Linked DNA regions of Homo sapiens. The protein of the gene in region 2 interacts with the protein of the main gene of each other region in a biochemical or structural test. Each region holds a gene or a part of one and is shown on either strand. Other genes may lie near its edges.

What was found.
Region 1: the proteins of VLDLR (region 2) and CD36 form a complex in vitro, tested with the Homo sapiens proteins (one study listed by BioGRID).
Region 3: the proteins of VLDLR (region 2) and DAB1 form a complex in vitro, tested with the Homo sapiens proteins (2 studies listed by BioGRID).
Region 4: the proteins of VLDLR (region 2) and LPL form a complex in vitro, tested with the Homo sapiens proteins (one study listed by BioGRID).

The regions. Positions count from the first base shown.
Region 1 is NC_000007.14:80,634,648-80,641,645, forward strand, and holds the start of CD36 (platelet glycoprotein 4), read left to right. Parts: upstream 1-3,994; 5' UTR 3,995-4,099; intron 4,100-6,998.
Region 2 is NC_000009.12:2,624,766-2,631,804, reverse strand, and holds part of VLDLR (very low-density lipoprotein receptor isoform a precursor), read right to left. Parts: intron 1-7,039. UniProt on the Homo sapiens protein: Multifunctional cell surface receptor that binds VLDL and transports it into cells by endocytosis and therefore plays an important role in energy metabolism.
Region 3 is NC_000001.11:57,414,061-57,421,060, reverse strand, and holds part of DAB1 (disabled homolog 1), read left to right. Parts: intron 1-7,000. UniProt on the Homo sapiens protein: Signaling adapter of the reelin-mediated signaling pathway, which regulates the migration and differentiation of postmitotic neurons during brain development.
Region 4 is NC_000008.11:19,934,901-19,942,253, forward strand, and holds the start of LPL (lipoprotein lipase precursor), read left to right. Parts: upstream 1-4,352; 5' UTR 4,353-4,540; coding exon 4,541-4,628; intron 4,629-7,353. UniProt on the Homo sapiens protein: Key enzyme in triglyceride metabolism.

The DNA.
Region 1 (6,998 bases), on a different chromosome or scaffold from region 2:
TCATTTGCTTCTCAAATATGTTGCAATATTTGTTACTCAACTTACTGTACTCTTCCTCTTTTATTTCACAAGTGTTACATTCCATGAATCAGCTTGTCCAAAAGTACTGTTAAAAGGATTTTTTTTAACTATACAAATGCTAAAAGAAAGTTTATTTTTTTTTTAGTATGCTCAAAGTGGATAAAGGCTTTCAAAGCATGATACAATCCTCAAAAGGAAATGACTCAAAGTTTATGGAATAAAAATGTAAACATTTCTGTAAGTTACACATACAAACAGAAAAGTAAAAATTGTCAAATTAAAAAAAAATTGTCAAATGTCCAAAGACTATTTTCCTACTAATTATTAAGAAAGGGACAAAGCAATTTATGGAAAAAAAGGTGAAAAGGATATTGTTACAAATGTTTTAAAATAAAAATGGCTAATATACTTTAGAAAATTATAAAATTACTGGGGGAAGGTTAACACACACTTAACATTTGTTACTTCTGAGGAATACAATTGGGGATTGAGGCCTCTCATTGTACACTTTTCTATAATTTTCAATATTGCTTTCTCTCCATACTTAATACATTTTCTAAAATAAAATTGTGCGTGATAGCCAGTGATGGCCATGCAATTATTTGTTGTTGTTTTTGTTTTTTGAGACAGAGTCTCACTCTATTGCCCAGGCTGGAGTATAGTGGCACAATCTTAGCTCACTGCAAACCTCCGCCTCCCAGGTTCAAGCGATTTTCCTGTCTCAGCCTCCTGAGTAGTTGGGATTACAGGCATGCACCACCACACCTGGCTAATTTTTGTATTTTTAGTAGAGAGGAGGTTTCACCATGTTGGTCAAGCTACTCTCGAACTCCTGACCTCAAGTGATCCGCCCACCTCAGCCTCCCAAAGTGCTGGGATTACAGGTGTGAGCCACCAAGCCCAGCCACAATTATTTGTTAAACAAAAACTATGTCAGGCTCTGTGCTAAATCCTTCATATTATCACTTTTAATCTTGACAGCAATTCTGTGAGGGAGATATTTCTACCATGTTTAAGAGAGGTAAAGTAGTTAGCAATAAGTCATACACTTAGGAAGTGATGAATTCCAAATTCAGACTCGGATTCCATTCATTTTCCTAGCAGATGTTCTTAATCTGAATCAAACCATTACATATCCATGGTATGAAGAAGCAGCATAATAGTCTCTCATTTCCACTCATTCTCACTACTTGTAAAGCATTATGATGGTTATAATAGTCTTGTGTGTGTCTGTTTATTCAACTTATTACCAACTATGAGCTTATTCTGTACTATAGGGGTTCAGTGGTGAATTAAACAGACAAGCATCCCCCTCCTCAAAAACGCAACATTCTAGCAAGTGCAAAGGCAGGTGCAAAGTTCAGTGGTGAATTAAACAGACAAGCATCCCCCTCTGCAAAAACCCAACATTCTAGCAGGTGCAAAGACAGGGCAAAAACAAAAGTCAATTGGCAGAATTTCTTCGATGGTGATAAGTGACCTGTGGAAAATAAAGCAGAGAACGGAGAGGGGAGGAGGCTTGTAGGAAGTGGGGGTGATGAAATGGGGAGTGTTGAGTGCCTAGAAATTTTCAGGCTCCTGTCAAGTATTGTACACTACTCATCTCTTAGCTCTTATTATTACTCTTTTATTTAGTTTTCTCTATTCTTTGATTATGAAAATGAGAGCAATGAATGTTAATTAACTTGATTATGGCAATCATTTTACAGTGTATACACATGTCAAAATGATTCATACCTTGATAAATCTGGAAAAAGAAGAACAAGCAGTTAACTTCCAATTACAAGTCAATATAACTAGGGCCCGGTAGCCTGAGGATTTAAACTTACATCCTTCCAATTTCTAACCCTATGTGATCTCTTGCAAAAAAAAAAAAAAAAGAATTTCCAAAGAATTGTCTAAACTGACTGAAGTAGATTGAAAATTATATCCTGTCATTCTAATAAATTAATCCAGTGTTATAGTGGATTTACATAAAGCAAGGTATATGCTCACATAAAACACATCCCTTCAAAATATGGTGGGTGCATAGTCTTTAAAAAAATGAAAACCCCAACACTCTTTACTTTAAAATGGGTACAGCATTTTGCTATGTTATTGTTTAAGGTCTATATTTTTCTAAAAATCCACAGTTGCAGATTTGACTCAGCTGTGTGCTTTCAGATCTTGTATGCTAAGCTACTCAGGAACTGTTGTCTATGGGATTGAACACTTAACAGCTGTCTCTGGGAATGTAAATTTGATTCTTTGGACTGCTCATGGGACTCTGTGACATTTTCCTCTCCAGTGACAGCAGATTTGAATGGCATTAGGCTACTGATTAAATAATACCCAAGTAAGTTTAATGTCAACTTAGGCATCTATTTTGCATGTATTTTTTCTGAAATAATCTTTCTCTAATTGCGATCATATTTTCATTATACTTTAGTCTTTTAATATCTTTAAAATATGCTCTTTTAAACAGGTCTTATCTGAACCCTTTCGTTGGTAATCTTTTTCTGAATTGTCATATTAGAGTGTGAGTGTGTGAGAATTAAGGTTGAGAAATAAATTAGCTTAAATACAAAACAGCTATCTACAAAATAGATATTCTTAACCAAAATAATATGTCTTTATACTACCATTTTATATCGTGCCACCAAGATAAAAGGTCGCAGTTATTTAAGGGAATTACCTTCTTAAGTTTCATGAAATCACTGTGAGTTATTCTTTTCTAACTGAAAGCATAAATTATAAAGAGATTGCACATGGTCATTTCTACTTTATCCTAATTAAGTGGTCTGAGATTTGAAAAAAAAGTAATAGACTTACAATATTTTTATGACTTATTTTTTAAATAAATATGTCAGTAAAAACTTCCCTGGGGAAAAAAAATTCTTGAGGAGAAAAGAGTGTTTGGGGTTTTTTTTTTCAGTTGTATGGCACTGCTTGCAAATGAAAGGATTCGTTGTGTGCCTCACATGCCCAAAAAGGACAGCACGAGCATTCTAACTTAAGGACTGGTTTAAATATGACCTAATGAACTAAATATATTTCTGTCTGGTATTCTTAGGTTACTTTACTTCTAAGGTTGTTTGAATGCATTTATCCAGCTCTCCTATCAAATACATGCCAGGTTAACCCTGTGAAGGTTTTCCTGTATGATTCTGAGAATTTCTTTATAAGAACAGGGTCTTGATAGTGAAGGTTCTTTCCCCAAAGTGCAAGGCCTTCTATTTTGATTCAATATCAACATAATGCTTTTTTTTTTTTTGAAAGTGACTTAAGTACTAAAGATTATCCTCAATAGTAATTCTACTTAGACATATTTTGGTTGAAGAAATTTAAAGAGTTTATTTTTTGTAGGAGCACTGTGCTGTGATCATGAAATTTTTGCAAAACTAACAGAAAATGATAAACAGTTAAGAACTTCCAGCTAGAACAATAGGCTGTTTCCTTTTTTTAAGTCAGTTTGTCATCCTTGCTGATTGACAGTCTCCAATTGTTTTCAGAATTATTAGTCTCACAGTATTTCAGAATTACGCTGTATAAAAAAGTACATTAAATTTAAACTTAATAAAATAAGTTTCGCAAGCTCAGTCAAGACAGGGAAGTGAGAATATGATTATTCTTCCAAATTTACTATTTCCACCAGCGGTCTCAGTTCAGCATCTGAGAATATGTTAGGGGAAACTCAGCAAGTCAGTTCCTTTTGTTTTTCTGGCCTCTGACTTACTTGGATGGGAAATAGCCAAAAAAAAAAAAAATGCTGAATATCTCAGATATAGGTAATGGGTCTTCACCAGAACATAAAAATAGACCCTTATTAGCCATATCAGTAATGTGCTGTGTGGGGGATTTTTTTTTTCTTTCAATTCCTCTGGCAACAAACCACACACTGGGATCTGACACTGTAGAGTGCTTTCTCTTCTCTTTTTTTGGGGGGGGGAGGGGGTGTGGTTGCATATTTAAACTCTCACGCATTTATGTACTGAGGACTGCAGTGTAGGACTTTCCTGCAGAATACCATTTGATCCTATTAAGAATTGTCCAAATGTTGGAGCATTTGATTGAAAAATCCTTCTTAGCCATTTTAAAGGTAAGTTGTATGATTTTTCTTTAAATAAAAAAGATTAAGGGATTTTTCCCATCACCCAGATGACGGGAGGTGACACTACTGTATAAATACTCCTAAGAAGTTATATAGGAGGACAGGAAAAAAGGTAGTAACTGTTTTCTTAGTCACTAGGCTTTATCTAAAAATCAGGTTTGCATTATTTTCAAGTTATCAACCTTCCTATATTTTATGCTTAAACCATACCCAATGGCATTTCATGTCGTATGTATAAGTTAATATTTAAAGTGATTTATAATCCAATTTGGATTATTATAAAACTTTCATTTTATACTTAGGCTATTTATACATGATGTTTAAATGATGAAGATCATTATACTGCAGACCAATATAATGAGGTTAGATGTTATAAATGACTTACAGCTCTTATGTCAACATGTTGTCTAATATGCAATTATTAACTATTACTTTACAGAGTCATTAGCTTGTTTAATTTTCAATCTGAATTGCACAACTTTTGGTATACCTGACTTGCTCTACATGATCAAATGCAATGTGTATTTTGGATATGTGCTTTTTAAGTTCTTTTCTGTAATGAACAAAGATATTGTCATTGTTACTGGGAATAGCAAAGTATATTACTTTTAAATAATCTGAAATTTAATTAGTGTAAATTAGTAGAATAAAAATAAAGTTAATTTTTTTTCGATTCAGGAAGCTTATTACAAATAGTACTGAATTATTAGATGATGATGCCAAGTTGAAGTAAAGGAGAAATCAATTTGGAGGAATTAAGTAAAAGCCTCAAATTAATTATACATTAACTAAAATTATAAATAACTGTAAATGGCATAAATTCTCTAGAGTACATCCCAGTTTCTGAAATCATCAAGTAGCATATTGAAACCTGTTTTGTAAAGATTTGCATGTACTTTTTAGTCTTTTTCTGTGTGGTTTGAAGTCAGTAATGTGTGTTGAAGCTAAAAAATATTGCTTTAAATATTGGTTCACAAGGAAGCCAAAATGAAATATTTAAAAATGTTTGTTATATAGAAAGTCCAGTGGTCCTTTGGAATTTACAAGAAAATAAGAACTAAAGTAGAAATCATTTAATTTCCCAGACTCATTAGTGAACCAGAACAATAAACCAAACAGAGAACCATCAGATAATGGGTTAGCCTGGGAAGAATATTAATTACAACTGGAGGTACTTGCACAGAGTGTACTGAATTTGGAATTTACCTTGGAAGTTATAGTTGCCACCCTATTTTTTTAAGGAATTTTTTTAACCTTGTTTACTTTAACACATTTGAACCCTGCATGTGTGTGTATTTCCTGTGTGTTTCCTGAAAAGGAAAGTTTAAGATAATTCTGTAACTATCAGATACTTAATTCTGTAAGTATCCTTGCATCTAATCAGAAGATGTTTTTGTTCACTGGCCCAAGATGTGTCTGAAACTTGCAAGTAGCATTGTTCTAAACTAGTAGCTGTCTTTCCATTTGCATATTTTAATTCCATACATATATGATCACATTTCATTATAATCTAACTATTTTGCAAATACTCATTTCTACTTTTGTAAAATATACACATTTATTAGATTTTTAAAACACTTGGCCAATATGAAATAACACTTTACTGTTATGGTTTGAAATGATACTTCATAGTAATATTTCAAAATAACAATAACATTTTCTACAATATAAATATATATTATTTTACTTCATTTAATACTTGCAACCTTATTTGATGTAAGTAAACTCATTTTAGAGAAAACTGTATCACAGACAAACTTCAATACTAACACCCAGAACTGAATCTACATTTCTTGGCTTCAAGGTCCAGCATTTTTGGCATTACAAACTTTATAGTGTCTGTTTATAGTAGAATTTGGGGTGTGGAAAAAAGACATTAGCATTCTTGTCTAAGGTTCAAAAATTAAGAATGGGTCTAGATAATACTCTTTAAGTCAGTATGAACTTAAGGGAATAATTTCAAACCTACAGTAATCCCTGGTTCATAAGTCTTTAAAAGACGGGACTTGTTTCTAGAAGGATCCCAAGTATAATATATAAAGTCCAATGTATTTATTGCATTAGTTTTTAAAGACTACCATCAAAACAAGTTACAAATTGCAATATTTGAGAAGTATGTAATTATTTTATATTACAGATGTCTATCAAGTTTTTTCCTATTTTACATTTTTACCATCATATATTCTGATAGGATAGAAATGGACATGAGATAATTTCAGTAAGATAAGATTCTGGAGATCTCATAGTCCAGTTATTTGAAAATTACTTGTGGAGCCCATGGGTTCTTTGGAGATGACTCAGAGCCCAAGTGAAGCGTGACTGGGAAAGGGAAGAGGCACAGTTTCTGCTCCTTTCTTTTACCAAATAACTCTTCTTTGAACTATCTTTTATATTGGTATTGTGCATAAAATTTACCTTGAAAGGAGAATTCTATCTCTAAACATGATTTTATAAAGAATGACCTAATGACCTTATGTTGATGAAACATAATCATAGTTAAATGATTGTTTTACACCCATTTCTACTACCTTGAATTTGAATCTACATTTTTACTCATGTATAGGGAACTGTGTCTTTATAAACATACATAGTTATGATAATGTGAAAAAAGTAATTTTAAAAACTAACTTCTATACTCATGCAAACCGTTGAATGAATTCCCCCAAGTCCTCCAAAAACTAGATTTTATGGACAGATGCTGTATTTTTTAGGTAAGGAAAACTCTCTGTATCAAGAGAATGGAAAACAAGAGTGTGGTCTGGTTTTCTATCCTAAGAAAAAGTGGGAGGAAGGCTTATAGATAGAAAAAAAAGAAATTTTAGCAATCTACTGATCAGTAAGAAAATGTCATTTAGGTCTGGCAAGTGTCTATGGTACAAGTACCCTG
Region 2 (7,039 bases):
TATACTGATGAAATCCGAGGATTTAGGGTGTCCATCACGCGAGCACGTTTTTGTTAACTACAGTCATTGACGTTATTTCTTCTACCTTACTGTAGGTTTGTATTCTTTAACCCACTTCCTTTCATCTGCTCTCCCTTTCCCCCTACTTCTGAGTCTCTGTCATCTTTCTACCATCTACCTCCATGGAATGAAATATTTAAGCTTCCACATACGATTGAGAACATAAGATATTTGTCCTGCTGTGCCTGGCTTATTTCCCTTAGCATAATGACCTCCAATTCCATCCCCATGCTGCTGCAAATGGCATGATTTCATTCATTTTCATGGCTGAATAGTATTCCATTGTGTATATGTACCATATTTTCTTTACCCTTTCATTATTGATGGGCATTTAGGTTGATTCTGTATCTTTGTTACTGTGAATAGTGCTGCAATAAACATGCCAGTGCAGGTATCCCTTGGATATACTGATTTTTCCTTTGGGTAGATACCCAGTAGAGGGATTGCTGGATCAAATGTTAATTCCAGTTTTAGTTTTTTGGGAAATCTGCATATTGTTTTCCTTGGTGGCTGTATTAGTTTACATTCTCACCAGCAGTGTATAAGACTTCCCTTTTCTCCATATCCTCAGCAACATCTGTTGTATTTTGTCTTTTTATTAATAGCCATTCTGACTGGTATAAGATTATATGTCATTTTGGTTTTGGTTTGCATTTCTCTAATGATTAGTAATGGTAACGATTTTTTCATGTATCTGTTGGTTATTTTTATGTCCTCTTTTGAGAAATGTCTATTCATGTCCTTTCTCCACTTTTTAATGGGATTATTTTTTCCCCATTGTTTGAGTTTGTATATTCTGGATATTAGTCTCCTGTCAGATAATAGTTTGCAAATATTTTCTCCCATTCGGCAGGTTGTTCTTCACTTTGTTGATTATTTCTTTTGCTGTGCAGAAGCTTTTTAGTTTAATTAAGTCCCATTTGTCTATTTTGTTTTTGTGGCCTAAGCTTTTGAGGTCTCTTTCATAAATTCCTTGTCTAGACCAATGTCCTAGAGGGAAACTCAGGGTTTTTAATGCATATAGAAGTCAGCCGCCATTGTCTAATTTTCCCTGTAGCGGTTGACATGGAGGACTAATACATAAGCTTCAGTAAAAAACTGCATAGGCCTTCGAGTAAATACCAAGCCTTCCAAACGGACTACAAATCTCCCTATGGGGCTCCGAGCAGCACCCTGGCAGGAGCACTCCAAGATGCATGCCCAGAATATAGAGAAAGTGTCTCTGGGTACCAGGCTCAGAGCGTACTTCAGCCTGCACAGAGGCTCATGCTGCCACACTGCTGGGGCCACCAGGGCCAAGCATTTACATCTCTCATGCCCTTACTCATTGCTTGAGCATATGGGTGTTACTTGCTGGAATTCCTTCCGTCCATTTGTTTTGGCACTTCTGGGGCCACCAAGGGCATTTATTTTTAGTCTAGTTCACTTCTACTGCTTGCCACTTTAATGACAGTGTTTCTATTTGTAAGCTAAAACTCCTTTCAGGACAAGCAAATTTCTGAGTCAGCAAAAAAGTTTTCCTAAGGGGAGAAGGGTTTGTAAGAGGCAAAGTACCACAACAGGTGTTAAGGGAAATGTTCTGAGCTGTCAAGCACAAAGATTGTGCTCTGGCCTTAAAGTCAGCCTCTGAAACATTGTAAGAACCAGTTTGGGCCAGGCACGGTGGCTCATGCCTGTAATCCCAGCACTTTGGGAGGCTGAGGCGGGCAGATCACCTGAGGTCAGGGGTTCAAGACCAGCCTGGTCAACATGGTGAAACCCAGTGTCTGCTAAAAATACAAAAATTAGCCAGGCATTACACACACCTGTAATCCCAGCTCCTTGGGAGGCTGATGCAGGAGAATTGTTTGAACCTGGGAGGTAGAAGTTGCAGTGAGCCGAGATAGTGCCATTGCACTCCAGCCTGGGCAACAAGAGTGAAACTCCATCTCGAAAACAAACAAACAAACAGCAACAAAAACACTAGTTCGGGGGCCACTAAAAAGTGGTGAATATGTAGGCTAATTCTTCTGAGTCATGGAAATAAGTGAATTTTACAGTTCAATTGTCAGTTACATTCAATTTCCATTTACATCAAATTGATCTTAAGAATCATGGACATAATCAAATCGTTTTTGTTGTTGGTCAAACACTGCTCTAAGACTTCACATCTCTTAGCTTTTAAAATTCTTAATCCTGCACAGTTGGCCCTATTATTCCTCTTTTACAGATCAGGAAACCTGGTAGAGAAGGAAAGTACAGTCACTTGTCCCAGATTGCCCTGGGCAGAGCTAGGAGTTGAACCCAGGCACTGGCTCTAGATACTGTGTTACTAAGCATCAACTTAGATTTAGCCTTGTTGTTGAGATGGAGGCCTGCTTTCCTTCCTCATTCTAAGTTTTTAAAAATGTTTCTAGAATTCCTCAGCAAGTCTTCTAAAAGGATTATAGCTCTTGGTTTTCTTGTCTAGGGTTCAAGTCAGAGGAAAGGCCCTCCATCGGATATACCTTGAAAATCGTTAGCTTCTGTGAGTGGTAAACTAAGTCAGTCGTTCTCAAGCTCCCGTGTGCATCAGAATCCCCAGGAAGGCTTGTTAAAACACAGAATGCTGGGCCCCAGCCTGGATTCTGATTCAGCAGGTCTAGAACAGGGCCTAAGTTTGCATTTCTAATGAGTCAATGTTGACACATGAACTCAATTAACATTGAATTAATGTTGCCAATTTCGGTCCACACTTTGAGAACCACTGCACTAAGGTTAAGAAGCTACAGCTTCTACCCATAATGTAAGTGGCTCTTTCATTTTCAGGGTTGTAGCATATACCAATAACACCCTCATAAGGCCTAATGTTCATCACAGGAGGGACACAGGAGATAAATGCCTCTTTTACAATACACATGATAGTAACATGTGAGTAAAGCCCTCAAAACTATTTTGCAGAAAAAATTTATTTGGGTGTCTTACTAGGCAGAGGTTCTTCTAAAATCCATCCTTCCCTCCCTGTGTAGTCTATCTTTGATTGGCCCCATTACTTACTCTAAATCAGTACTCCAGAAATGAGCCCAAATTCTTCCCTGACATTTGGCCATCAATCCCTGGCTATGCCCAAGCCCTCCTCTCACCTGATGTCAATTTAAATGTCTTGTTCCTTTGCCTCCAGGCTGCCACATTCTCTACCCATATCAAGCAACCTAGTGATTCAAGCAACCTAGAATAGCCAAGAATGGGGTCATTTCTTGGCTTACCACTATCTCTAGGATTAAGTTCCCTACTAATTTCCTCAGACTTTTCCCTATTGGTCACTACCCACCATCTGCTATACGGGCTGAGCTAACAGCTCAAAGGGGACCCACTCACTTCCCCATGGCTTTGCCCTTCCTCATGGCTGCTTTGTCTCAGTTTGTTCATGTTGCCCTTGTCCACCCATTCACCAGGAGTGGGCTCAGATTGTATTCTTGAATGAGGCCTCAATGCCTTTTTTGGAAAAACTAGGTATGGTCTGGCTGCTTTCTCATAATAGTCCCTGTCACAGAGCCATCACCCAAGGAGATGAGTTCAGCTACCATTTTTCACCTTTAGACACAGAGATCCCCTAAGGCATGGGCTGCAGTTCACATTTGTAACTCAGGACCTGGTGCCTGACATCCTATATTCTCTAGGCACTAGTTGGTAGTCTTGGGTGCATGAGTTGATTTATTAGTTTACTAATAAAGCTGGTCTGAACTAAAAACTTTTGTCAAAAACATTTCCCCCAGCTTTTTCAGAACTTGAAACCAAGTGTGACTGGTTGTTTTACTAGCTAGAATACTTTGAAAGACTCTAGGTTATAAAGGTCCCTGTTCCCTAGGCCTATGAGGGTACCTTCACCTCATCTTTGTAGCAATTTTTTTTTTTTTTTTTTGAGATGGATTCTCGCACTGTAGCCCAGGCTGGAGTGCAGTGGCGTTATCTCGGCTCACTGAAATCTCTGCCACCCGGGTTCAAGCGATTCTCCTGCCTCAGCCTCCTGAGTAGCTGGGATTACAGGCTCGCACCACCACACCCAGCTAATTTTTTTGTATTTTTAGTAGAGATGGGCTTTCACTATGTTGGCCAGGCTGGTCTCGAACTCCTGACCTCGTGATCTGCCTGCCTCGGCCTCCAAAAGCACTGGGATTATAGGTTTGAGCCACCGCGCCCGGCCTCTTTGTTGCAATTTATCATTTAAAAACAGTGCATTTTCACACACTTGTCTGTCAGAATGAGTGTGTCCCTTTGGGTGTGTTGGCTTCATTTCCATGTGAAAAGAGAGGTTCCAACACCTGAGAAGGTTAGCAGCGGCTAACTGGTAAAGTTGAGTGTGATATATCAGACGCAGATTTTACTTCTGACATGTTTTAATGCTCTTTGGTAATACTGGCAGTAATCCATTGTTGCTTTAGTCATATCACTTTTGTAGGATTATCTGCAGACATAGAATTATTTCTGGCTTTTTGAAATTAAAGTCTAAGTTCTTGGTAATTTTAGGGAAACTTCATAAGCTAGAACCCAGATAGCATATGGAAATTCCAGAAATCTCCAGCTGCTATCTGCCTCTTTTATGATTAAGTCTTAAACACTGGATCTGCTCACTCCTCTTCAGAGCTTCTATTCCAAGCGGTCTTTGGCTGTTTCCTGCTTTGATTCCCCTACTAGACTAAGTGCCACAAAGGAAGGAACCAGTGCTATGGTCACTCTGTCCCCATGCCTGGTGCCATATGGTAGGTACTCAGTAGATGTACATTAAGTGGTTTCCAGAAGATGCACAAAGATGACCAACATCAATCTGCAACCTACTTAGTGAACATACAGATCAGTTAATACCTCAGATGTGGGGAAGTCTTTCTTAAGAAAATGAAAGATTAGAGGCAGTCTATAAAATAGAAACCCTGTTTACTCACAGCATGTGGGAGAACTATTAAGTTCTAACAAACTTGTGATGTAACTCACAAATGCTGTCTATCGCCGAGGCTTTGTTATGTCCCTTGGTTGGCAAATTGCAAGTCCCCCCATCCCCACCACCTCGTCTACATACATAAAGGCTCCCCAGATGGCCCCCAAGTTGGCAAAATCAGCTGCTCTAGCCAGAGGCTTCATCTTATAGTTTCCAGCATCTCTAAACTACAAAGTAGGCAAAGGATCTCTAAGCAAGCATTGAAACATTTCTAACAGAATCTCCACACTTACTCTCACAGGACCTAACAGGCATTCTCTTGCTTAGAGACTCAAAATAACTGTTGGGCCCAAGCTTTCCTAGGAGACTTCACTCAAGGGGAAAAGTATGCTAAATTTATGGTCCAGGTTGAGCATCCCTAATCCGCAATCTGAGATGCTCCAAAATCCAAAACTTTGAGTGCTGACATGATGCCGTAAGTGTGGAAATTCCACACCTGACATCACGTGACAAGTTGCAGTCAAAACTTTGTTTCTTGTATAAAATCATTAAAAATAGTCTATAAAATTACCTTCAGGCTATGTGTATAAGGTGTATGTGAAATATAAACGAATTTCATGTTTAGACTTGGGTCCCATCCCCAAGATACCTTATTATGTATGTGTGAATGTCCCAAAATCTGAAAAAATCTAAACTCTGTGGAACCCTTCTGGTTTCAAGTATTTCAGATAAAGGACACTTAACCTGTGTTATCACCTGCCATCTCATTTGGTTCCTGCAGTGCAGTTAGTGTACTTAACTAAGTGGTATTAACAGTGTTTAGAGTTTTTGTTGCAAGCCAATAGACGAACTTAGCAAAGAGACACTGATTTAGTTTGAAAAATGCAGACAGTAAAATTGAGATGATTTTTACTTAAAAGCCAGATTCGCCTATAGCTAGGTTAGACTCTGCCCCAACTCTTCAGAAAAACTATCAGTCCTCAGATTTTCTAGCCCAAAACTCTTTAGGTGGCAGAAAAAATTGTCCCTGGACTACTTACTTCCGCTTAACAAGTATATCTCGCCCATAACCTCAGCAGACAGTATTTTTGGACTGTTTGCCTTGAAAGTAGTCTATCACTCTGTTGTCCAAGTATTCTTTTGAGATTAAATTAGTAGGGACCAAACTAAGCAATTTTGAATTTATCAACTAACCATGTAGAGGGCAGTTGTATTAGCCACCACAAGGAGCTCCCTAAGGCAGGTACATTTACAACGAACATCATTATAGACCTCATCAAGCCCTTTAATACATTTAATTTCTTATAGGCTAGTATGTGAAGGTGGTTTTCCAAATGAAAGTCAGTATCCAAAGTGAATGCAATCATTACTTTAAGTCACGTAGGCAACTGCCTTGTCTTAAACACTTTTCCCTGCACTGAAAAGAACAAATTTACATTCTGTGAGAAACAGAAAATGGGCTAGATATTTAAAATGAATTAGCTGTATTTCTATGCTGTGTGCCAAGTCTTCAAGGTTTGGGATCAAAACCCGAAGCCACACGGCTGGGTACTATGTGTTCCCTTGATCTTATGGTCATGTTCTACTCTAGGAGTTCTTGTTAAGTCTTATCAATTTGATACCTCTCCTGGAGCAGAAGGGGCTTGTAACAACTTTTTTCCTCTTCCAAAACTGTAATGAAACTACTCAAGTCAAGTTTACGGTTATTCAATTTTATGACAGGTAGAGACACTTGGATCAGGTCTTCACTTCTTTTGAGCATGGAGACTGTCACCTTTGCTAGCAATGTTTAGTGTTAAATAGCAGTCTATTGTACTAAAGTCTTAATATTTGGCAGCTCTACTTGACCTTTATACATGCTTTAAGTATCTGGGGACTCAGGCCATAAAAGCAAACAATCAAAATGACACAGGACAGGCACTATAGGTAAATGCCACATAAAGTGGGCAAGAGGGTGATCCAGGGAACAAAGCTACACTGGATTTCATGAAGCTGTTACTGCCAAGGAGGGCTTGGCTGGTGACCTTCCTTTACGCAGTCCCTGCTCACATGAGTGATCAGTCTTTGATAAGGGGTACTATCATCGTC
Region 3 (7,000 bases), on a different chromosome or scaffold from region 2:
GCCACCCTGCAGGCAGATGAAGAATCTAATGGAGGCAGCATTTCATTTTGATAATTCACTCAAGTCAAACATTTTGTTTTTGCTGGGATTTAATCCTTCTCTCAAACTAATAAAGCAAACAAAGCAAGAAAATCACAGTTTATGTCTCTTAGATGGCACTTTAAAAATAGCATAAATTGAAGGGTATTGTCCGGAACTTTAAATGTTATTTAGGACTTACTGAGACAAAGAATACTCGTGGTTGAGTTAAGCAGTTGAGGATGAATCTCAACTTCCCAGAACCTTGCTTTCATCATCTGCAAAACGGACAATATTACCTACCTTGTGGGTCTTGGAGCAATTTTATGGAGAAAATCATATGATTGGGTGCTTTGGCACATAGCAGGATTTCAAGAGAATGATCTCTTAGTAATAGACAGCATGGAATTCTGTTCAAGAAAGTGGATGGCATTTGGAATTGGAAGACCAGGATTGAATCCAGCTACTTCTGACTTTGTGATGTTTGGCAAGTCACCTTTCATGTTAATAAAAAAGAATAATTAACCTTTATGGAGTACTACTAAGAGTCAGGAATGCTTCTAAGCACTTTACACATATTAACTTATTTAATCTTCAGATAACCCTAGGATGTGGATACTTGTATTCTCATTTGTATTAGCTAGATAAGGAAACTGGGGCACAGGAAGATTTGGTAACTGGCCTGAGATTACATAGCAAGTAAGGGATGGAACTAGGATTTAAACCTAGCCATTCTTGTTCCAGGGTCTGTCCTAACCACTGTTATGCTGCCTCTGAGTGAGGAAGTGATCCCAGCTAGCTCCCAGGGTGTAAAATTTAATGGAGAATAATGAAATAGTAAGACTTCTATAGGAGCAAGCTACATATTTCCCCATTTTTGGATGCTAGCAAACAAAATGGGTGTTACCTTATCATCAACAGGGAGTGGGGCAATGATAGGCACTTTGAACACTTGTGACTCTGTGGCAGTTTCTATCAGGCATTGGTTAGTATTGGTTCACATCTATTTACTCTGTGAAAATGTTTATTAATTAGGTAACAATTAGTAATCAATTAGTAAATAATTGTTTAGGCAATTAGTAACGCAGAAACAGCATTACTGCTTTTCTCAGTTACTAGCTGTGGTAAGCAGAGATTCTCAAACTAAAAGGTGGTATAGCAGGTGGTAAGGAGTCTGGACTTCGTTTCTGGACTGACTGCCTGGCTTCAGATCTCAGCTCTACCAGCTCTGTAAGCTGTGTGGCCTTGGCCAGCTAATCTAACTTCTCTGTGCTTTATAGTTTTCTTTATAATGAAATAACAGTACTTACCTCATAAAATTATGAAGATTACAGGAACTAACACAAAGTGCTTAGAATAATACCTAGCATGTAAAGTTACTTAGCTATTAGTGTTATCTTTCAAATGAGATAAAAACCCATCTCCTAGATAATGAAAAAGTTTTCCATCATTGATATTCTGAGAGTTATGTATCCCAATAGTATCTGGTCTATCTTTAGGAAGAGATACATTTTAGGATTTTAGGCAAAGGTTTTTTTTTTTTTTTTTTAATTGGAAATATTTCCTTACACATTTTGGCTCTTTGTGAAGAGGAGTTGTGGAAGTACACATCATGTTAAAATTTCCATGCCATTTTACTTTTCCGCAGTTATTCTGAGGAAAGTAAAATGACTTTGATTGAATTCTAGAGGTGTGTTTGTCAACTGTCCTAATTTACAGATTGAAAGAATATTAGGCTTGCAGAGATACGTAACTTTACAGCCCAGAGGCGCCATCGCAACTCAGGATTCTTGGACTCCTTGTCCAGTGCTCCTTTCACTAGACCAGATTGTCTCCTATACCAGGATAGAGACGTGGCTTGAAAATATAAATAAAACTTGGCAGAGGAGGTGTTGTCAGGCTAAGAGCATGAGCCAGCTAGACATTCTGTACTGAAAAAAGCATGTCAGTAGGAAAAGAAAACCCCTCCTCTGGTATGTACATTTATATCCATGAAAACTCACACTGAACTGAATCTGTGAAATGCATATCAGGATATAAATTCATGTAAAAAAATGAAAACAACTCATTAATCAAATTAATCACCTGGATATTTCCCTCTGATTGGAGAGCAAATGTTCAGATTTCTTTTTCTTTGACATGTTCTTTTTATTTTTCTTCCATTTAGTTTTGAGATGTGGGAAGGTTTTGGTTGAGGAATCATAAAACTCCTCTGGCATCTATTTTATGAAATATGTAGCATATTCTATTGGAAAGAAATTGCAAGCTTGCTTTTATTATTATTATTTTATTTTATTTGAAGCTGACATATAACCAATCTGCAATGCCAGTGGGGGAGTCTCATAAACAGAAAGGAAAATATAAATAAAATTCTGCTGAATAGAAGAGATGACAGCTAAAATGACGAAAATTTTGTGGTGGTGAAGGCGGGCTGTTTAACTTATGGTATAAAAATAAGGGGATGGGTCCTCCCAAATAGTTGTAAGTAGTTCAGCATGAACCCAAATCGGCCCTCTTGACCACCTGTAGTGAGTCTTGCAAATTACCAACCCCATGCATCTGCTCCGAGCTTCATATTGATTTACAATTTTCTTTGTTGGTCAGTCTCTGCATCTCTTGAATGGACTCATGATTTGTTTACTTGGTATCCATCAATTCAGGTATCTCTTTCTTTGCTCTTTCTCTGTCTCTGTCTTTCCTCGTTTCTATCTGCCTTTGTCACATTCAGTCTTTATGTCTCTTTGTTTTTATTCATGTTAGTGTTGCAACTGAAAATAATTGAAAAGCTGTGAATATGCATTGAGAGAATCTGGGAAATTGAGGAAGAACATTCTGGTCATGCACATAAACATCACTTCTATGTCCATTCAACAAATGTTTACTGAGCACCTACTTTGTGCTTGACTCTGGCTCTGTGCTAGGCATTGTGAAGAGTACCAAGATGCAATTGCACAGTTTGCCATCTAGGGACCTGGTTTCATGCATAAATAACTGTTACAGCAGGAGATGCGCTATGGAAAATATGTATACAGCTGTGGAACCTTCTGGAGGTGGTAATTTACTCTACCTGGAGAAAGGAAAGGCTGGGGGAAGGCTTCATTTCACCTAGGTCTTGAAGGCTGACCAGGAGTTTCTCAAGGCTTAAAGGCAGTTCTGACTGATAGGACTTCATGGACAAAGTCATGCAAGCATGAAGGATGGTTATTGACTTAGGGATGGGCATAATTGGGTACAGAGGTAATGTAGAACATGCATCAAAATGGGTTTTTTTAATAGAGCATTTTCCAAACTGTGTCCCAGGAAACACTAATGTCCCCTAAGATCATTATGAATATTTCAAAAGGAAGAAGGCTCAGAGGGAAAAATAAGTTCCATGTTCAAAAATGTTTGGAAGATATTGAATTATATATCCTGTTCTTAGTAAGATGTGGTATTTACTGATATGTTAAAGGTTCAGAGATTTTCTGCACTAAAGTCATTTAACTCATGAAGAATTTTAAAAATTCATTTGCCATAGAACCTTTGATTTCAAGTAGCATCTCTCAGTGTCTTATGAAATAGATTGGGAAAAATGTAGAGAATCACTTAAGCCTTTTAAGAGTAGTTTTCATTCTATCATGAAAATAATATGTGTGTGATTTGAAATGTAGGACAGAATATTTAACCCATTTATGCCTAGTGTTCCTTTATTGGAATGCTAAGCTTGTGGGCGTTATTTATATCCTACTGCTCAAGGTCATCACCAAAGTCTCATTTTTCACAAAAAACAATTTGCAACCTCTGGCATAAATGGGTTAAGACACACAAAAAGTATAAATAACAATATAATAAAAAGTTTTGTACCTACCACTCAGCTAATGAAATAAAGCCAGTTAAATACAGTTGAAACCTCCTGGTAACCTTTCTCTGATCATACGTCCCCTTCTCTTGGCAGACATAGTCACTATCCTAAATTTGATAATTCTTTTGAATATATTTTTCCAGAACAAACCTAAACAATTCCACTGAATTCTCTTCACTTTCTAGCTCATTACTGTATATATAATAAAAAGAAATGGTATTTTGTCCAATAATTTTCCTGAAATAAAGGACATTTATAAACTGTCTAGCTAGTCACTACATAGGTAATAAGAAAGAAATAGTATTTTGCCTAATAATTATACTGGAATAAAGGACATTTATGAACTACTTAGGGAAAGGAAATATAGCTGTCCCTTTTAACTCCGGTGTCTGGAATGTAGTAGATGCTCAATAAGTTTCTGCTTAATTGAATTGAATTAAATGTGTTCAGTCTGCTGTGGTTCATTAAGTTAATTTGGGTAAAAAGATTAGGGTAAATTGTTTTCCATAGACAATATTGAAATTCTTTGTGATCAGTGAACTTGAAAATCATTTTTTATTGTGATTCTTTATTTTGTAATCTAGATTTGGGAGTGAATTATAATAATTATCTGTTGAAAGTCATTTCTATGTTTTATTGACATCTCTTAAAATCATTAACAATAACTACTTATCCAAATCTGTCCTATTAAAACAGTCGATTCACTAGAGCTATCTACTTCCATTATAGGAAAAATTATAAATAAAACTGCTTTCATCCAAAGAGGAAATTTTAAAATTGTAATGCTATGTAATTACTCAGTACCCTGACATGAAATGCATTGAAAGTTTATGAGGTTCCATTCCTTGGGGTCCCCAAGAAATAACTTCCCATCAGTAACAGAGTGTTGTTATTAGATACTATCATGCCAACAGAAGCATCTCTTTTGATATATGCAAGGGACATCTTGAAAAAATTTACATCACCTTAAACATAAGTCATATGTGGGTGACATTTTCTTCTCTTATTGTCTCAGACTATATTCATATATTATGGTATATATGTCAACATGTAGAGTGAATGGCAGAATATTGGTGAAGAATGCATGGTAGAATGAATGAGAGGAGAAAGGAAATGGAAGACTCACAGGCTCACCGGAGGAAGCTTTTGGTACAAAATCATGGCTGTGTGGGAGACAGTAGATTACCTTCTCTCATGGGGTTAGAAGTTGATCTACCCTAGGGTTTTCTATCCTTGCTTTCACTGATATATATTTCTCCTGGTAGTTTTTGTAGTAGCAGTTAAATCCCAGCAGTTAGCAGAACAAGAATGAACTTTGTGGTGTGAATGATCATAAACATAGAAAAACGCTGCACAGAGGGTAAGGAAGAGATGCTGTACAATCCTAGTCCCTGGTGATGGTGTAGCAGTACCTATAATGATGGCATGTGGTGGTGCTTGTCTTGAATTGCAGGCCATGTTATTCTGAGCAGTATTATATGTCTACTCACGAAAGTTCTAGGTATAAGCCACATCCATTCAAATATACTCAGGTTAAACCAGTAGTGCTAGTAATCTAATTGTGGACAAAGTCAAAGATGGGCCAACCATATGCTGAATCTGAGCTATGGCATGTGTTGTCAGAATATAGTTCCAATAAATGCAAAAAGGTTATTTATGCCTTTGGGAAGCTGAATAGATTTATAGACCACATAGAAGTTGGATTTTTGCCAACCTTCTGCTATCTAACTTCTTAATTTTAACGTAGTTGAATTTATCAATCTTTTATGGTTAGCACTTTTTATGTCTTGTTTCAGAAAGCCTTTTTTTTCCCACTCTGATGTCATGAAGATATTCTCCTTTGTTGTCTTCTAAAAGCTTTATTGTTTTGTTTGCCTTTCAAATTTAGGTTCTCTAATCCATGTGGAGTGTGTGCATATATGTGTGTGTGTGTGTGTGTGTGTGTGTGTGTGTGTTGTGTGAGGTAGGCATTTATTCTAATTTTCTTTCATATGGAAAAATGATTTTCCTGGAACTTAGAGTCAATTTCTAAGCATATGTTTTAGCCACTCTTTTGCCCTAACCAAACTTTATTATAGCTTTTTAATGAATCTTGGTATTGGCCAGGACACATCCCTAAAAGTGTCCTTCTGCAAAAGTGTCTCAAGAGTGTCTTGGCTTTTCTTGGGCTGTTTTCTTCCGTATACATTTTATAATCATCTTTCAAGGTTTCACAAGAATACTGTTGAGATTTGATTTGAGTTTTATCAAACTTATAGACTGATTAAAAGATAATGCCATCATTAGGACATTGAGCCTGAGTCTTTCTATCTGTAAATGTAGTAACTCTTTCCATTTATTTAGTTCTTATTTAATGTCTTTCAATACAGTTTATAATTTTCTTCAAAGGGCATGCACTCTTTTTAGATTGAGTTTTAGGTGGTTTATATTTTTGTAATTGCCATTGTAAATGTTATCTTTAAAATTATATTTTCTAGCTATATATTAATTTTCATCATATGCTACCTGTATTTCTTATTCTAAATGGCAAATAGTCAGGAGAGGAGGAAAATCATGGGTGTTTTTGAATGCTTACTATTAAATAAATTCAGGCATCCATGGGAGATACGGCTGGTTCCATTCCAGGCCACTGCAATAAAGAGAATATTGCAATCAAGTGAGTCACACAAATTTGTTGGTTTTCCAGTGTATATAAAAGTTATGTTTACACTATACTGTAGTCTGTTAAGGGTGCAATAGCATTATGTAAAAAAATCAATGTACATACCTTAATTGAAAATACTTTATTGCTCACATATGCTAATGATCAGCTGAGCCTTCAGCAAGTCATAATCTTTTTGCTGGTGGAGGGTTTTACCTCAATGTTGGTGGCTACTGACTGATTAAGGTGGTGGTTACTGAAGATTGAAGTAGCTGGGTCAGTTTCTTAAAATAAGACAATAATGAAGTTTGTCACATTGATTGACTCTTCCTTTCATGAAAGATTTCTCTATAGAATGCAATGCTGTTTGACAGTATTTTACCCACAGCAGAACTTTTTTCAAAATTGGAGTCAGTCCTCTCAAACCCTGACACTGCTTTATCAATAAGTTTATGTAAATCCTTTGCTGTCATTTCAACAATCTTCACAGCATCTTCACT
Region 4 (7,353 bases), on a different chromosome or scaffold from region 2:
ACAAGGCTACAGTCACCAAAACAGCATGGTAGTGGTACCAAAACAGAGATATAGATCAATGGAACAGAACAGAGGCCTCAGAAATAATGTCCTATATCTACAACTATCTGATCTTTGACAAACCTGACAAAAACAAGAAATGGGGAAAGTATTCCCTATTTAATAAATGGTGCTGGGAAAACTGGCTAGCCATATGTAAAAAGCTGAAACTGGATCCCTTCCTTACACCTTATACAAAAATTAATTTAAGATGGATTAAAGACTTAAATGTTAGATCTAACTGCATAAAAACCCTAGAAGAAAACCTAGGCAATACCATTCAGGACATAGGCATGGTCAAGGACTTCATGACTAAAACACCAAAAGCAATGGCAACAGAAGCCAAAATTGACAAATGGTATCTAATTAAACTAAAGAGCTTCTGCACAGCAAAAGAAACTACCATCAGAGTGAACAGGCAACCTACAGAATGGGAGAAAATTTTCGCAACCTACTCATCTGACAAAGGGCTAATATCCAGAATCTACAATGAACTCAAACAAATTTACAAGAAAAAAACAAACAAACCCATCAAAAAGTGGGCGAAGGATATGAACAGACACTTATCAAAAGAAGACATTTATGCAGCCAAAAGACACATGAAAAAATGCTCACTGGCCATCAGAGAAATGCAAATCAAAACCACAATGAGATACCATCTCACACCAGTTAGAATGGCGATCATTAAAAACTCAGGAAACAACAGGTGCTGGAGAGGATGTGGAGAGATAGGAACACTTTTACACTGTTGGTGGGACTGTAAACTAGTTCAACCATTGTGGAAGTCAGTGTGGTGATTCCTCAGGGATCTAGAACTAGAAATACCATTTGACCCAGCCGTCCCATTACTGGGTATATACCCGAAGGATTATAAATCATGCTGCTATAAAGACACATGCACATGTATGTTTATTGTGGCACTATTCACAATAGCAAAGACTTGGAACCAACCCAAATGTCCAACAACGATAGACTGGATTAAGAAAATGTGGCACATATACACCATGGAATACTATGCAGCCATAAAAAATGATGAGTTCATGTCCTTTGTAGGGACATGGATGAAACTGGAAAACATCATTCTCAGCAAACTATCACAAGGACAAAAAACCAAACACCACATGTTCTCACTCATAGGTGGGAATTGAACAATGCAAACACATGGACACAGGAAGGGGAACATCACACACTGGGGACTGTTGTGGGGTGGGGGGAGGGGGAGGGATAGCATTAGGAGATATACCTAATGTAAATGACAAGTTAATAGGTGCAGCACACCAACATGGCACAGGTATACATATGTAACAAACCTGCACGTTGTGCACATTTACCCTAAAACTCAAACTATAATAATAATAAAATGTTTTAAAAATTCAATAGATTTTACAATATTTTTAAATAATTATGACTTTGTATTTATACATTTTATTTGTATTAGTATGTTTTCTTACATTAATTATACTTTTTATAAGGACAAGATCCGACTCAGTACTGATGTTCTTTAGAGCCTACTTACACATTTCATTGTATTTTACTTTAGTAAGAAAGCCACAAAATAAAAATCTACATTAAAATATGTGTGTACAAAAAAAATCTGATTCCCAGCCTATTCCTGTTTGCAATTGCTGCAACATTAAAATATAGCACATCAAATACATATTTGCTTCTCGGCTAGGATCGCCAAAGAAAAAACATCTTATGATTTGTGGTTGCTGTTATTTAATCTTCCCTGAGCTTCATCTTCCCTCATCTGTAGAAGGGGAATATTATTGAGTTTGGAGTGCTTTTGTAATGATTAAACACAGTAGAAGATGAAAAGTGCCCAGTGCAATTAGCAGGCCTTCAATCAAAATAAGCAAGCTAGCTAGCTAGCTGGCTGGCCAGCTAAATAATGCTTCCCTACATCCAGAATTTCCAGTTGTTTCATTAGATATGCACATTCAAGTTTTTACTTAGGTAATTTTAAATGTGTCCCAGTGGCAAGTGTCCTGCTAAAGGGGTACTGTTAGCTTCTTCTCACCTAAAACTTAGTTTGTTACAAAGGAAATGCCAATTATGGAAAAAGTCAAGCCTTGAGCTACTGAAGGCCGAGTAACCTCGCCAAAGTTTGGATGAGTCGCTTCACTAATGCACATGCAATCCTGACCTAGAGATCATGTGAGTTTCTGCGTTAGAAGGCGGGCACCTGATGGCTCCCAGTGCAGCCAATCAGGAGAGAACGTTGCCGCCACACCCACCTGCTCCGCGCTGGCCCTGGGAGAGGAGCCAACCTGTCTTGCTTTTTTTTTTTTTTTAACCAGGCTAAGCTGCTGTAAATTAAGTCTTCCTGGAAATCTCAGCAACTCTATTGGACGTGCTAATGGCACAGTTCACTCCAAACTGGATTCATATTTAAATATTACATATCCTCCAACTCTTGAGTGCTTTAATTTTGTTATCTGGTTAGCCTGGGAAATCATTTTAAAAATACGCTATAAGTATCAGACTTTCCCTTAGCAATTATATAAAATCTCCTTGCAGTTTTCTGAAAGGCACAGAAGTGCAGTTTGATTTGGTTGTCTTATCAAAGGACATTTATGCATGAAAATAGGCTGCAGGAGTATTCTATATAAGATAGCAGGCAGTTCTGCACGTCTGTTTATATGCCATTCACACCATGAACACATCCAATGCAATTGTATTCATCTTCTGTCATTTTTTAAAATTAGAGTTTACTACATGATTTTTGGAGGACGGCCATATCATAGTTATTCATCCCTTGCATGGTCTGTTCTGCCACTTCTAAAGTTCTGCGAAGTTTAATTTTTGGCAGGTTTCAAGATTCTCTACATACTTTGTAGGTTAGAGTGAACGTGCACAGTATATTGTGTAATAATTGCAATACAAGACGGTGTGTTGTGTTGTGGCACGGAATGCATCAACTTAAAGATAGAATTGTTATGCAGAATAGAGACCTTTGAAATATTTGGGTATTATCAACTTTTATTTCATTTTTTGAGAAAAACTTAAAAAGTGAGCCCAGTTTTTTAAAAAGCATTTCATTGTTCTAACCTACAATTGTGCATTGTATGTTTGTGTGTGTGTGACGGAGGGTGGGATGAATAAAAGGGGACATTAAAAATATTCAGACCATAAATATAGTAGATTGGAGGTTCTGATTTGATGAGCCAGTTTCTCAGCCATAAACTGAGAGGGGGTTGGGGATACACTTCATTGTCCTTCCTGGCTAATGTAAATCCCTTATATTTAAAAAGATATTTAAAAGTATTCCAAGCATTTTGGCAGAAAAGCATAGTATCTAATGTTATTTTTTTCTTATTTTATGTGCATGCCTCTTATCCATTTAAAAATAGCTTTACTGACCTATAATTTACACACTATATAATTCTCCCATTGAAAGTGCATAATTCTGTTGCTTTTAGTATATTTACAGAGTTGTGCAGCATCAGCATAATGTAATCTAGAACATTGTCATCAACTACCCCCAAATCTCTATTCTTCCCTTCCCCTATTAATTACCCAGCCCCAGGCAAGCACTGATCTACTTTTGGTCTCTATGGATTTGTCTATTTGTGGACACTTTAAATGGAATCATACAATATGTGTCTTTTGCGACTATCTTCTTTCACTTATCATAACTCAATACGGCTTTAGATTATTTGACCTCGATGTTCTGCCTCTGAACATAAAATATTATCCTTGCATTCCTTGATGAGTTTGAGGATTGAGAATAATTTGCATGAGACAAAAATTAGAAACTAGTTAGAGCAAGTAGGCTTTTCTCCATCACATAAGCTGATCCATCTTGCCAATGTTAAAACACCAGATTGTACAAGCACAAGCTGGGACGCAATGTGTGTCCCTCTATCCCTACATTGACTTTGCGGGGGTGGGGATGGGGTGCGGGGTGAGTGAGGGAGGACTGCAAGTGACAAACAGGATTCGTCAAAAGAGAGGTGTATTAAAGTGCCGATCAAATGTAATTTAACAGCTAAACTTTCCCTCCTTGGAAAACAGGTGATTGTTGAGTATTTAACGTGAATCGATGTAAACCTGTGTTTGGTGCTTAGACAGGGGGCCCCCGGGTAGAGTGGAACCCCTTAAGCTAAGCGAACAGGAGCCTAACAAAGCAAATTTTTCCGTCTGCCCTTTCCCCCTCTTCTCGTTGGCAGGGTTGATCCTCATTACTGTTTGCTCAAACGTTTAGAAGTGAATTTAGGTCCCTCCCCCCAACTTATGATTTTATAGCCAATAGGTGATGAGGTTTATTTGCATATTTCCAGTCACATAAGCAGCCTTGGCGTGAAAACAGTGTCAGACTCGATTCCCCCTCTTCCTCCTCCTCAAGGGAAAGCTGCCCACTTCTAGCTGCCCTGCCATCCCCTTTAAAGGGCGACTTGCTCAGCGCCAAACCGCGGCTCCAGCCCTCTCCAGCCTCCGGCTCAGCCGGCTCATCAGTCGGTCCGCGCCTTGCAGCTCCTCCAGAGGGACGCGCCCCGAGATGGAGAGCAAAGCCCTGCTCGTGCTGACTCTGGCCGTGTGGCTCCAGAGTCTGACCGCCTCCCGCGGAGGGGTGGCCGCCGCCGACCGTAAGTTTTGCGCGCAAACTCCCCTCCACCTGCAGACCCGGCGGGTGGCCACTGCCACCCGAACTGAGGATGAGAAGAAGGAAGTTGGAAGGGGCGGTGGATGCGCCCAGGGACTCTCCCAGCCTGGGCTCTAGCCCCGAAACGGTCCCCGGAGTGGGATCCAGGAGGGGCCGGGAGGGAATCTCCTCCCGATCGTGAAGCGGCGGCGCCCAGTTCCCGCTTTTTCTCTCTGCCGGGTTCCCGCGCTATCCCTTCCACTCTGGCTGGGACCGCGTTCCCGGGCTCGCAGGCTCCGCCGGGGAGGTTCCGGGGTGTGGGGGCCGGGACGGCGGAGGCGGGGAGTAAGGGCCCGGCTGGCGGTGACCTGCAGTCACCTCTCTGCCGGAGGGGCCCTGGAATGAAAGGCGCGCGGGCCAAGGTGACCTCGCCTTGGTTGGCACTGCGGCTCAGCCCCCGCCCGGGGACTCGCGGGCCGACTGTGGCCCCTTCTGGGGAAGCCGGGGCGCGGGGAGGCGTTCCGGGCATCTCAGCCGCACGGGGTACGCTCGCCCTCGGCGGGGCCCCTCGCTCCGCTGTGGGAGTGGCAGTGGGTGTCGGGGTGGAGAAAGTACGCGTGGCGCGGAGTCCTGGGGACGCGGCGTCCCACCCGCTCTGGGGAGCCCCGGACTCTCTCCAGCTTCCAGGCTCGCATGCCCCTCTTTTCTTAGTGCCCTGAGAACCCAGCGAGGGGCTGACCCTCCCGAAACCGTGGCGCAGCCACCAGCAATCTGTGGTCGCCGACTCGGGGGGTTGCCAGGTCTGCGTTTGGCCACCCTTTCTGTCCTGGGGGCTGAGGTCAGCTCCGGGCGCCCGGCCCCGCCGCGCGGCTGCGAGCACGTGGGGTTGACGGGCGCCGCGTGGAGGCAGCGAGCACAACGGTGGTCACCGCCGCCAGGGAACCGCCCGCTCGCTGGGGTCCAGGCGTTCGGGGCCAAATGAGAATGTCTCAGACCTGTCCGCAATGGAGGCAGCCTGCTTAATTCGAACCTCGATTCAGTAAACATGCAACAGCAGCATAGAGAGCAGCTGAAGCCATTCATAACACGGGACAACATTTCCTTTTTTCTTCCATGCTGGAATTGCAATTAGGGCGGTGTCGCTTGGATGTGCTCTCAGGCGGCACGTCCCCAGCGGTTCAAGTTATAATAGAGTCTCTCCATAGCTTTGATGGCCGCTAAACGTTTGTTTTATTTTGGCATTAATTTGTGAAACATTTTTGTTAGGTTAAAAAACAAAAAGTTGGCAGGGAGCAGTGGCTCACCCATGTAGTCCCAGCACTTCGGGAGGCCGAGGCCGGAAGACAGCTTGAGCCCAGAAGTTCGAAATCAGCCTGGGCAACATAGGGAGACACCGTCTCTATAAAAAAAAAATACAAAAATTAGCCGGGCGTGGTGGCCTGTGCCTGTGGTCCCAGATAGTCAGCAGGCTGAGAGATCACTTGAGCCAGGGAGTTTCAGTAGACTGCAGTGAGCTGTGATTGCCCCACTGCACTTCATCCTGGGTGACAGTGAGACCCTGTCTCATAAAATTAAAACAAAACAAAACAAACACTAAGTATAGATTCCATCAAAGCAAAATTGGATAAGAAAAAAAGTATCTTTTCTATTGGATCAGTTTGAAAACACTGGAGAGTTGATGAGAAAGTCTTCAACATCTTAGGTGGGGTATGTTTCGTATGTTTCCCTTCGTACTGCTTAATGCTGACAAGAAGATGGTAGGAGCCAACTCCAAATTCTTATTTCAGAAAGCACACCATAGAATAACGTCATTTTCATTGCAAAACAAGCACCGAAATATGTCATCACATTCAAGTTTTTCCTAGGCTCCCTTACAGGTTCAAGATCCTAAATTCTTGGGAGTCAGTGTCACCTCTCTGGGTTTAGGTTCCTCAACTCTGCAATGAGTTTGGATGAGGCCAATGTTCTCTGAGCCTGGTGTAACTCTTGCCTCTTTAAGTGGACACTTATGTGATTAATTAGTTTAATTGAGTTGTAGCCAACACATGCTTTTCCTAGCTGTAAATATATTAAGGAAGGATTATTTCCAAGTAGACTGGAAACGATGCCCTCCCATCCCCTCCACTTTCACTCTACTCACCCAATATATCATGCCTCTCCCATCACAGCAACTTTCTCCCTCTTTCTCCTCCAGATGCATTCATCTAGGAAGGTAAGAATTTCAGGGAGAGAAAGATGTCACCGTGGTAGAAAGACAGGGATCACCTCCTCTGGGCTCTTGAGTTTACTTATTCATTCTGGATTCTTTCTAACAAGAATATGAGGACAAGAGGCACTGTCCTCAGGCACTTCGTCCTGGGAGCCACCACCATCTCTGCATGGCCCCAATTAGGAAACGTGAAGAGCTAGGAGAGGGAGAGTATGGTCAGTGCTTAGCAGCTGAAGTTCCACTTGCCTGGCCATCGTGAATTTCCAGGCTGTCTTCTGAGTTGAACATGATGGCAAAGGAGAGCAAAATAGCAGATGTCACTGAAGGAGAGCTCAGCGAGGGAGTGATTGATTAATAGCTGTATTGAAAGGTGGGAGTCAGGTACGGGGGAAGAGCGGCGATGGAAAATTTTCGCTTTCTTTCAGCAGCTTATTTTTAACTCAGCTTTCTGTTCTTGCTTTATTATGGAGGAAAAATTGGGCCATAGAGTTTACTGCCTTATGCCAGATTGTTCAAGAAA